Regions from separate parts of the Homo sapiens genome. Here region 1 is linked to region 2. A link means that fine-mapping ties the variant in region 2 to the expression of a gene that starts in the linked region. Tissue or cell type: whole blood. Region 2 holds a variant in brackets; the other region holds the start of a gene. All regions are shown on one strand. Distances are between the middles of the regions. Region 1 holds the start of STARD9 (StAR related lipid transfer domain containing 9). Region 2 overlaps STARD9 (StAR related lipid transfer domain containing 9).

The links. PIP is the estimated chance that this variant, and not a neighbour inherited with it, causes the effect. A credible set is the group of variants that fine-mapping cannot tell apart.
Region 1: STARD9 starts here. The variant in region 2 is the best candidate, but not a certain one, in a credible set for the expression of STARD9 in whole blood (INTERVAL, PIP 0.69).

The regions. Positions count from the first base shown.
Region 1 is chr15:42,572,828-42,578,202 of GRCh38, reverse strand. STARD9 (StAR related lipid transfer domain containing 9) reads right to left here and starts at 2,597. Exons shown (of 33, transcript NM_020759.3): 1 at 2,441-2,597. The coding sequence starts at 2,487. RefSeq lists silencers at 420-479, 2,460-3,089.
Region 2 is chr15:42,698,436-42,703,810 of GRCh38, reverse strand. The region is part of intron 26 of STARD9 (StAR related lipid transfer domain containing 9); the gene reads right to left. Among named protein-coding and RNA genes, the nearest start is that of CDAN1, 36 kb to the left of the region's middle. The variant C/T (reference allele first, on the strand shown) is at 2,743.

The sequences.
Region 1 (5,375 bases), 130 kb after region 2:
GGAGGCGGAGGTTTCAGTGAGCTGAGATCGCGCCATTGCACTCCAGCCTGGGTGACAGAGTGAGACTCCATCTCCAAAAGAAAAAAAAAAAAAAAATTGAGCGTCAACTCTAGTCCTACTGAATAAATAGGCACTTGAGACACAAATGCAACTTTTCTGTAATCTCAGAAAGAGCAGTAGGTCTAATGAATCAAATCTTGGCTCTTACTACTTTTAGAACTTAAGCCAAACCATTCTGTCATCTGGAAAAACAAAAAATAGAAGCTTGGGCCAGATCATCTGTAAGATTTCTTCCCAAGCACAACATCAGATCCAATGACTGTCAACTGAGTGTGTGCCAATGACTTATTTGAAGGTTGGAACAAACCACATAATCACCAGATTCCCCACATTCAGATAAGCCTCAATGAAGACAGTATAACACCCCCTGAAGAACAGCTGCCATCTCTGCAGGATTCTGTGAGAAGAGGGAAGTGATCCGGACCTCTTGGCTGGGGCCACACTGGGTTTATCTGTATCTGCTCCTGAATCTTCAGCCTGCTACAATCTGTTCACACCTGGGTATCTACAGTCTTGACATCCTACCACTTGCTGCTCAAGGCTCTTAACTTGAGCTGAAAGTAAATAAATTGTGCTTTCATTTTCCCTTCACTTTTGTTTGGTATGTTATTCTCTACTGTGGCTGCAAGTAAACCAATTTCAGCATCATTTTCTTAATCTAATTCATGCTATTATAAATTCCTAGTGTCCGGCTGGGCGCAGTGGCTCACGCCTCTAATCCTAGCACTTTGGGAGGCCCAGGCGGGCAGATCACGAGGTCAGGAGATCGAGACCATCCTGGCTAACACAGTGAAACCCCATCTCTACTAAAAATACAAAAAATTAGCCGGGCATGGTGGCGGGTGCCTGTAGTCCCAGCTGCTGGGGAGGCTGAGGCAGGAGAATGGCGTGAACCCGGGAGGCGGAGCTTGCAGTGAGCCGAGATCGCGCCACTCAACGCCAGCCTGGGCGACAGAGCGAGACTCCATCTCAAAAAAAAAAAGAAAAAAGAAAGAAATTCCTAGTGTCCAAGGAACTGAGAAGTTACTGAATGTTAGGAGTGGTCAATACTGTTATCCTGAGAACCCTAAAAGAACAGTTTCACAAATACAGAATATACCAGAGACTACCTCCAGCATAGCATCTGCACTTATAAAACCCCCCCCAGCCCTGAGCTACCACATCCAGTTATGAAGAAGCCAGGTGTCACAAGCCATTTACCAATCAAAACGCAGCAGGTCAGGCATCTGCTTTCCCTCTTTCTTCAGTGTACCTCTTTTGCCTTCTTCCTATTCTCTTTAACTTTTTGTTTCTTTCTATCTCATTGCTCTTCTCATTAGTCTGTCAATTACAAGACTTTTCAAAGCCAATCATTTCTATATGAGGACGAACATAATCCACACTAGTACCCAATTTTATTATGGGAGACGATACCTTTCTTGATCCTTCTGCCCAATTATCAAGCTATCTTATGTCCCAGAGATTTTTAAACTTGCCAAATAATTCCAACATGTGCCTCCTGGTCCCCAAAGCACCCTCTGCCAGATTTACCTTCCACCACTCACTTCCCTCCACACCAACCACCCTTTCCCCACCAAAACTTAACCTCTAGTTAGTCCCTTACAGTCTAAGTCCTTTGCTCTTGGCGGTCTTACTACATAGAAGGCTCTTTAAACTCTCTCCACCTGTCAACAAACTCTAATTGATCTTTAAAAAACACTTCATCTGGTGACAAAGAGAAAAAAGTTCGTGGCTGCACACTGGATGTCTCAAGGGCTGAGATGAGAGGTGCGGAATCAAAATAAGCCACGAGAAAACGGGCACTGAGGGCTCTGAGAGAAAGAAGGGGTTGGAACAACTTCCCCTACTTAACAGTTCCGTCCTGGATTAAATCAGCTGTCGAGCATAGAAAGAAACCGCGACCTGTGTCGGCCTCAATTTCCCCCTCACGCCCTCACCTTCTGCTTTCTCCACATCTTCGCAGAGAAGCCCACGCGCACCCAGAAACACACACCATTCAGCCTCAGTCCTCATGGGTACTCCCAAGCCCCCAGAAAGAGAGAGGAGAATGCTCATCCCTCTCCCAGCCTTTCTCAAAGGCCCAACCCGATGCAGCAAGCCTCGAGCCGCCGTCCCTCGAAACTCCTGCTGGCAGGACGCCAGCGACGCTCACCCAGGGCAGCCCTCCCGCGGCCGTCCGGGAACCGCTATCCCCAGGACACAACGCGAAAGCTCGACTGAGGTCCCGTCCCGCCAGGCCTCCGTGGATTCCGGACCCCGACCCCCCGGGTCACTTTGTCACCGATTTCTGCGCGCCAGAATCTCTGCAGGGGGAGACGCGGACCTCCCGCTCTTTTCAGCTCCTGTGAAGCCTCAGGCGCCCTCTCCCGCGGAGACTCACCTCTTGCTGAGCGGCCGGACCCGCACGGCGACCTGCACGTTCGCCATCCGTCTGCCACAACCCAAGTCCAGCGGGTCAGCTCAGCGGCAGCATCCCAGGCCCCCGCCCTAAGCCCAGACACAGCCCCAACCCAGCCCCGCCCGCCCCACGCGCCTCTGGGGACGCCGCCGCGCGGACGCGAGCTGCCGCCCGAGCGGGGCGGTGCCTGCCTAGCTTCGGCCAATCCTGAGCCCGGTGGGCGGGAGAACTCCCGGCCCCGCCTCCCCTCAATCCTCCTTAAAGCCTCCTGACTCGCCCCCGCCCAAACACGCGCCGCAGCCAGAGCAGGCGGGCCCGTGTGGACGTTCGGCCAGTCCTTAGCCTGGTGGGCGGGAGGATGCCAGGGCTCGCTCCGCCTCGTTCCATCCGAAGCCTCCCGGGTCGCCCCCGCCCAAACACGCGCTGCATCCCGAGCTGGGTGGTGCCCGCCGAGCCTTGGCTAGTCGGTGGGCGGGAGGACGCCCGGGCTCGCCCCGCCTCGCTCCGCCCTACAGCCTCTTGGGACGCCCCCACCCATGCGCGTGCCGCACCGGGCCCAGCAGTGCCGGCCCAGCTTCAGCCAATCCTGAGCCGAGTGGGCCGCGAGGACTCAGTGCTAAGTCTGTTGTTCCTGGCCCCGCTTACCCAGAAATAGTTTTTGTTCCTCGACTAGGTGTCCGTGCTATGTAAAGTCAAGTAAATCAACTTTTGGTCCGAAAGTTTGCAAAGTAATTTGCTAAATACTTTTATTCTCTGCGTTCGCTTGAACTGTCAATTCTGTGGTTAAATTTTCGAGGCAGGCCGGGTGCAGTGGCTCACGTCTGTAATCCCAGCACTTTGGGAGGCTGAAGCGAGATCACCTGAGGTCAGGGGTTCGAGTTCAGCCTGACCAACCTGGTGAAACCCCGTCTGTACTCAAAATACGAAAATTAGCCGGGCCTGTTGGCGTGCGCCTGTAATTCCAGCTACCCGGGAGGCTGAGGCAGGAGAATTACTTGAACCCTGGAGGCGGAGGCTGCAGTGAGCCTGGATCGCGCCACTGTACTTCAGCCTGGGCGACAGAGCAAAACCCTGTCTAAAAAAAATAAAATAAAAAAATAGAAGGCAGTCCCTTACTGGCAAGGTACTTCCTGACATCAGGGACAAAGCATAGATGGAACCAATTCAGATAAAGGGTTATTGTCCAGGTCTTCTTGTACAACCAAAAGACAGGTGGCTGGTGTTTATCTTTTCCCTTCAAGGCTTGAGGGTTAGCAGCCATATAGATAAGGGCAGTGCTGATCATAAACCCAACTGCATTTGCACAAAATATTAGCGTATCCCTTCCTGCCTTAAATCCTGGTGCTTGCTTCTCTTCCTTACTAATAAATGTCCTTTGTGGCATTTATTTTTCCAGAATAGGGAACTTGCATATGCACCGAAAAGCTGTTCAGGCAGATACCCTTTCTTCTCAATTATTTCCTTAATGGTGTCTAGGAACTCATTTGCTCCCTCTTGGTCAGCAGAAGCTGCTTCTCTTGTTATCTTGACATATTTTAAACCAAACCTTTCCAAATTTATCAAATCATCCCTTACTGGCATAAAATTGTTTGGATCCTTCACCTTCCTTTTGCTTCAAGTTGTCATATAATGACTTTGCTTGTTCTCAAATCATATTAAGAGTATATAGGTATATAGATAGGTATGTTTTCCTTTTTTTTTTTTTTTTTTTTTTTTTTTTTTTTGAGATGTTGTCTCACTCTGTCGCCCAGGCTGGAGTGCAGTGGCGCGATCTTGGCTTACTGCAACCTTCAACTCTCTGGTTCAAGCAATTCCCCTGCCTCAGCCTCCCGAGTAGCTGGGATTACAGGCGTGTGCCACCACACCCAGCTAATTTTTTTGTATTTTTAGTAGAGACGGGGTTTCACCATGTTGGCCAGAATGGTCTTGAACTCCTGACTTCAGGCAATCTGACCACCTCTGCTTCCCAAAGTGTTGGGATTACAGGTGTGAGCCACCACGCTGGCCAGGTATGTTTTTCTTACAGCAATCCTGTACCCACATAAAAGCTTCATTTTCTGTTTGTTGTTGTTGTTGTGTGTTTTTGGTTGTTTTGTTGTTGTTGTTGTTGTTTGAGACAGAGTCTTGCTCTGTTGCCCAGACTGGGGTGCAGTGGCACTATCTCAGCTCACTGCAACCTCTGCCTCCTGGGTTCAAGCGATTCTTCTGCCTCAGCCTCCCGAGTAGCTGGGATTACAGCTGTGCACCACCATGCCTGGTTAATTTTTGTATTTTCAGTGGAGATGGGGTTTCACCATGTTGGCCAGGCTGGTCTCAAACTCCTGACCTCAGGTGATCTGCCCACCTCGGCTTCCCAGAGTGCTGGGATTACAGGCATGAGTCACTGCACCTTGCCAAAAGCTGCATTTTCAATATGAGATAAAAAGACATTTCAGGGCCGGGCACAGTGGCTCACGCCTGTAATCCCAGCACTTTGGGAGGCCAAGGTAGGAGTATTGCTTGAGCCTAGTAGTTTGAGACCAGCCTGGGCAAAATGGTGAGACCTCATCTCTACACAAATTAAAAAATAAAAATAAACTATAAAAAGGTATTTCACAAAAAGCTCAAGGTTTTTGTGCCTCCTGGTGTAGCTGTGGTCATGGCTGCACAATTTTTTTAAATTTTACAATGGTCCTTACAATGGATTCATTTATCATGAAATGGTAGGCAACCACAGCTGCAGATCTATAGTACATATCAAGCAATTCAGCTTTTTCTTGTAATGTCATGACTTTTCTCTGCTTCTTGGGAGCACTTCCAGCATCACTAGTGGCACTTGGTACTGGTCCCCTGATGTTATTCAAGGCTTATGATATTGCACTGAATACGGTGAAAAACACCCAAGAACCTCAAGAGATCACTTTTTATTGTGATACAC
Region 2 (5,375 bases):
AAATTATAAAGCAGAAGAATAAATCTGTGAGCTCAAAGACAGGATATTTGAAAATACAGAGGAGGAAAGAAAAAAAGAATGAAAAAGAACAAAAGAAAGCTTAAAGAATCTGTGTGATAGTGTCAAAAGAACAAATGTGGCCAGGCGCGGTGGCCCACGCCTGTAATCCTAGTATTTTGGGAGGCCGAGGTGGGTGGATCATGAGGTCAGGAGTTCAAGACCAGCGTGACCAACATGGTGAAACCCTGTCTCTACTAAAAATACAAAAAAAAAAAAAAAATCAGCCAGGCATGGTGGCTGGCGCCTATAATCTCAGCTACTTGGGAGGCTGAGGCAGGAGAATTGCTTGAACCCTGGAGGCGGAGGCTGCAGTGGGCAGGGATTGTGCCACTGCACTCCAGCCTGGGTGAACAGTGCAAGACTCCATCTAAAAAAAAAAAAAACAAACAAAACAAAAAAAACAAATGTACGAGTCACTGGCATTCAAGAGGGAGTGCAGAATGAGAACGGAGGGGAGTAGAAAGTTTATTCAAAGCAATAATAACAGGGAACTTTCCAAACCTAGAGAAAGATATAAATATTGAGGTATGGAAAGGTAAAAAGTTCCCAATTAAATTTAATGAAATAAGACTACTCCACGGCATATAATAATCAAATTCTCAAAGGTCAAGGACAAAGAAAAGGTCATTAAACCAGCAAGAGAAGAGAAGCAAATAGGCTAGGTGTGGTGGCTTATGCTTGTAATCCCAACACTTTAGGAGACTATGGTAGGAGGATTGCTTGAGGCCAGAAGTTCAAGACCAGCCTGGGCAACATAGTGAGACTCCCATTTCTACAAAACACTTAAATTAAACTGTAATTTTTAAAAAAGAAAACAAGCAAATAACAAGTAAAGGAGCTCCAATAGGTCTGGCAGCAGACTTCTCGGCAAAAACCTTACAGGCTAGGAGGGAGTGGGATGACAGTCAAAGTGCTGAAGGAAAAAAACATCAACCAAGAATACTTCATCCAGTAAAACTATCCTTCAGACATGAAGAAGAGAGGAAAGACTTTCCCAGACAAATGAAAATTGGGGAAATTCATCAACACCAGACCTGTCTTATATAACAACTGCTAAAGGCACTTCTTCAATCTGAAAGAAAAGGATGCTAATGTGTAACAAGCAAACATCTGAAGGTATAAAACTCACTGGTAAAACTAAGTACACAGACAAATTTAGAAAACTCTAATATTATAACTGTGATAGATAGACAACTCCTATCTTTGCTATGAAGAATAAAAGACAAAACTATTAAAAATAATAACAACAGGCCGGGCGCGGTGGCTCATGCCTGTAATCCCAATACTTTGGGAGGCCGAGGTGGGCAGATCATGAGGTCAGGAGTTGGAGACCAGCCTGGCCAACATAGCGAAACCCCGTCTCTACTAAAAATACAAAAATTAGCCAGGCATGGTGGTGCGCGCCTGTAATCCCAGCTGCTCAGGAGGCTGAGGCAGGAGAATCATTTGAACCCGGGAGGCAGAGGTTGCAGTGAACTGAGATTGTGCCACTGCACTCCAGCTTGGGCGACAGAGCAAGACTCTGACTAAAAAAACAAACAAACAAAAAATTTTAATCGTCTTTGTTCTATAACTGGGAAGATAAACTAGTAACTGACATTATCAGTGTGGAGTCTGCTGAAAGGGCTGGTTTCTGTTTAGCCCTTAGGGAAGAATGCCTAATATCTGTTAGCGAGGAAGGGGATATAAGCAGGTGTGTCCAACCTCCCATCAGGTCATGGTCATGCATTCAGCTTTTTTTTTTTTTTTTTTTTTTTTGAGTCAGAGTCTCACACTGTCACCTGCACTGGAGTGCAATGATGATCTCGGGTCACTGCAACCTCCACCCTCCCGGGTTCAAGCAATTCTCCTGCCTCAGCCTCCCAGGAAGCTAGGATTACAGGTGCATGCTGCCACGCCTGGCTAATTTTTTGTATTTTTAGTAGAGATGGGGTTTCACTATGTTGGCCAGGCTGGTCTCGAACTCCTGACTTTGTGATCAGCCTGCCTCAGCCTCCCAAAGTGCTGGGATTACAGGCGTGAGCCACCGTGCCTGGCCAGGGCATTTATTTCAACATCTTCTGTTGGTCATGCACTCAACTTTTAAGGTTTCTCTGGGGTCTCCCTGGCTGAGAGGAGGTCTGTTCAGTCAGTTGGAGGCTTAGAATTTTACTTTTATTTATCAATCAACATACAAAAATCAGTAGTGTTTCTATAGACCAAAAGCAAACTATCTGAAAAGGAAAGCAAGAACACAATCCCATTTACAATAGCTACAAAAAAATAAAGTCCCTAGGAATAAATTTAACCAAAGAGGTGAAAGATCTCTACAACGAAAACCGTAAAACACGGATGAAAGAAATTAAAGATGACATGAATCAGTGGAAATATATCCCATGTTCATGGATTGGAAGAATATTGTTAAAATGTCCATATCACCCAAAGCAATCTACAGATTCAATGCAAGCTCTATCAAAATACGAATAACATTCTTCATAGAAAAAATAATCCTAAAATTCATATGGACCCACAAAAGACCCCAAACAGCCAAAGAAATTCTGAGCAAAACAAAGCTGGAGGCATCACAGTACCTGACTTCAAAAAATACTACCAAGCTATAGTAATCAAAACAGCATGGTACTGGCATAAAAACTGACACACAGACTAAAGGAACAGAACAAAGAACACAGAAATCCACACATT[C/T]ATAGCCAACTGATTTTTGACAAACACACTAAGAACACACAAGGGAGAAAGCACAATCTCTGTGATAAATGATGCTGAGAAAACTGGATATCCACATACAGAAGCAAGAAACTAGACCCCTATCTCTTACCATATACAAAAAGGATCAAAAACTTAAATCTTACACCAGAAAATATGAAACTACAAGAAGACAACATAGGAGAAATGCTTTATGACATTGGACTGGGAAAGGAATTTTTGGACAAGACCTCAAGAGCACAAGTAACAAAAGCAAAAATAGACAAATGAGGTTACATCGAACTAAAAAGATTCTGCACAGCTAAGGAAAAAAGAGTGAAGAGACACCCCACAGAATGGGAGAATGGATTTGCAAACTATGCATATGACAAAGGTTAATATCCAGAATACATAAGGAATTCAAATAATAGCAAAAAATCCCAAAGAATTCAACTTTAAAATGGGCAAAAACCTGATTTCACATTTCTCAAAAAAAGACATTCAAATGGCCAACAGGTATATGAAAAAAATGCTCAACATCACTAGTTTTTAGGGAAATCCAAATCAAAACTACAATGAAATATCACTTCGCTCCATCTAAATGACTATAATAAAAAGACAAAAAACAACAAATGCTGGTAAGGATGTCGACAAAGGGGAACTCTTATACACTGCTGGTAGAAATGTAAATTAATACCGCCATTATGGCAAACAGTATGAAGGTTTCTCAAAAAACTAAAGCAGAACTACCATATGATCCAGCAATTCCACCACTAGGTATATAGCCAGTGAAAATGAAATCAGTATGTCAAAGAGATATCTACACTCCCATATTTATTGCAGCACTACTCACAATAACCAAGAGATGAAATCAACCTAAATGTTTACAGATGAATGGGCAAAGAAAATGTGGCATATATACACAATGGAATACTATTCAGCCATAAAACAGAATAAAATTCTGTCATTTGTGGCAACATGGGTGAACCCAGGGACATTATACTAAGTGGAAGACACCAGGCATAGACAGCCAACCACCACGTGATCTTACTCATATGCGGAATCTAAAAAAGTTGATCTCACACGCCTGTAACCCCAACGCTTTGAGAGGCCGAGGCAGGTGGATCACCTGAGGTCGGGAGTTTGAGACCAGCCTAGCTAACATGGTGAAAACCCGTCTCTCCTAAAAATACAAAAATTAGTTGGGTGTGGTGGTGGGCGCTTGTAATTCTAGCTACTTGGGAAGCTGAGGCATGAGAATCGCTTGAACCCGGGAGACGGAGGTTGCAGTGAGCCAAGTTTGCACCATTGCACTCCAGCTTGGGCAACAGAGTGAGATTCTGCCTCAAAAATAAATAAATAATGAAAATAAAAAAGTTAGCCAGGCACGGTGGCTCACGTCTGTAATCCCAGCATTTTGGGAGGCCAAGGCGGGCAGATCACGAGGTCAGGAAATCGAGACCATCCTGGCTAACATGGTGAAACCCCATCTCTACTAAAAACACAAAAAATTAGCTGGGCGTGGTGGCGGGCACCTGTAGTCCCAGCTACTCAGGAGGCTGAGGCAGGAGAATGGCGTGAACCCGGGAGGCGGAGCTTGCAGTGAGCCGAGATTGAGCCACTGCACTCCAGCCTGGCGACAGAGCAAGACTCCATCTCAAAAAAAAAAAAAAAAAAAAGAAAAGAAAAAAGTTGATCTCATAGAAGAAGAAAGCAGAATAGTGGTTACCAGAGGCTGGGGAGGGGATCAGGAAGAGGGAATGGGGAGTGGATGGTCAACAGGTACAAAGTTAGAAAGGAAGAATAAGTTCTGGTGTTCTATTACACAATAGGGTGACTATAGCTAATAACAATATAATGTATATTTCAAGTTGGCTAGAAAGGGTTTTATGTTATCACCACAAAGAAATGATAAATGTTTAAAGTGATGGATGTGCTAATTGCCTGATTTGATCATTATGCAATGCATATGTGGATTGAAACATCACAGTGTACCTCATAAATATTTACATTATGTGTCAATTATAATAAAATAAGACAATTTTTTTTAATAAACAAGAAAGAATACTCTGGTAAACTCAGAAAGAGAAGAGCAATGAGGGTAGTGGTGGACTAACACTACCGCAGGGTAGAATCTATTCTAAGCCTTGGTATAAGGAAAGGGGACCCCTTAAACTGGTGAGGCAAAGATAAACTGTCTAACAAGCATTACAGGGACAACTAGATAGCCATCTGGAAAGAACACAATCGGATCCATACCTCATATGAAAATGACTCCAAAAGGAACAAAGATTTAAATATGAAAAATAAAACCACAGAAGTTCTAGAAGAAACCATGGAAGAAATTCTTTATAATTGTGGATTGAAGAATGTGTTTCTAGTTATTATTTATAACCTAGATACCATAAAAGGAAAACGGACAAATATATCTGCTTGCATGGCCTCAAACAAAATAAGCAAAGTCAAAAGAGAAGGAAGCACTGGGAAAAAAATATTTCTAGTTCGTATCAGTCAAACGGCTATTCTTACTAAAATATAAAGAACTCTCCAAATTGGTAAGAGAAAAAGAGAAAAGAGCAAAGGATATGAACAGATGGCTCATGAAAAACAAAATACAAATATTCAAGCATATGAGA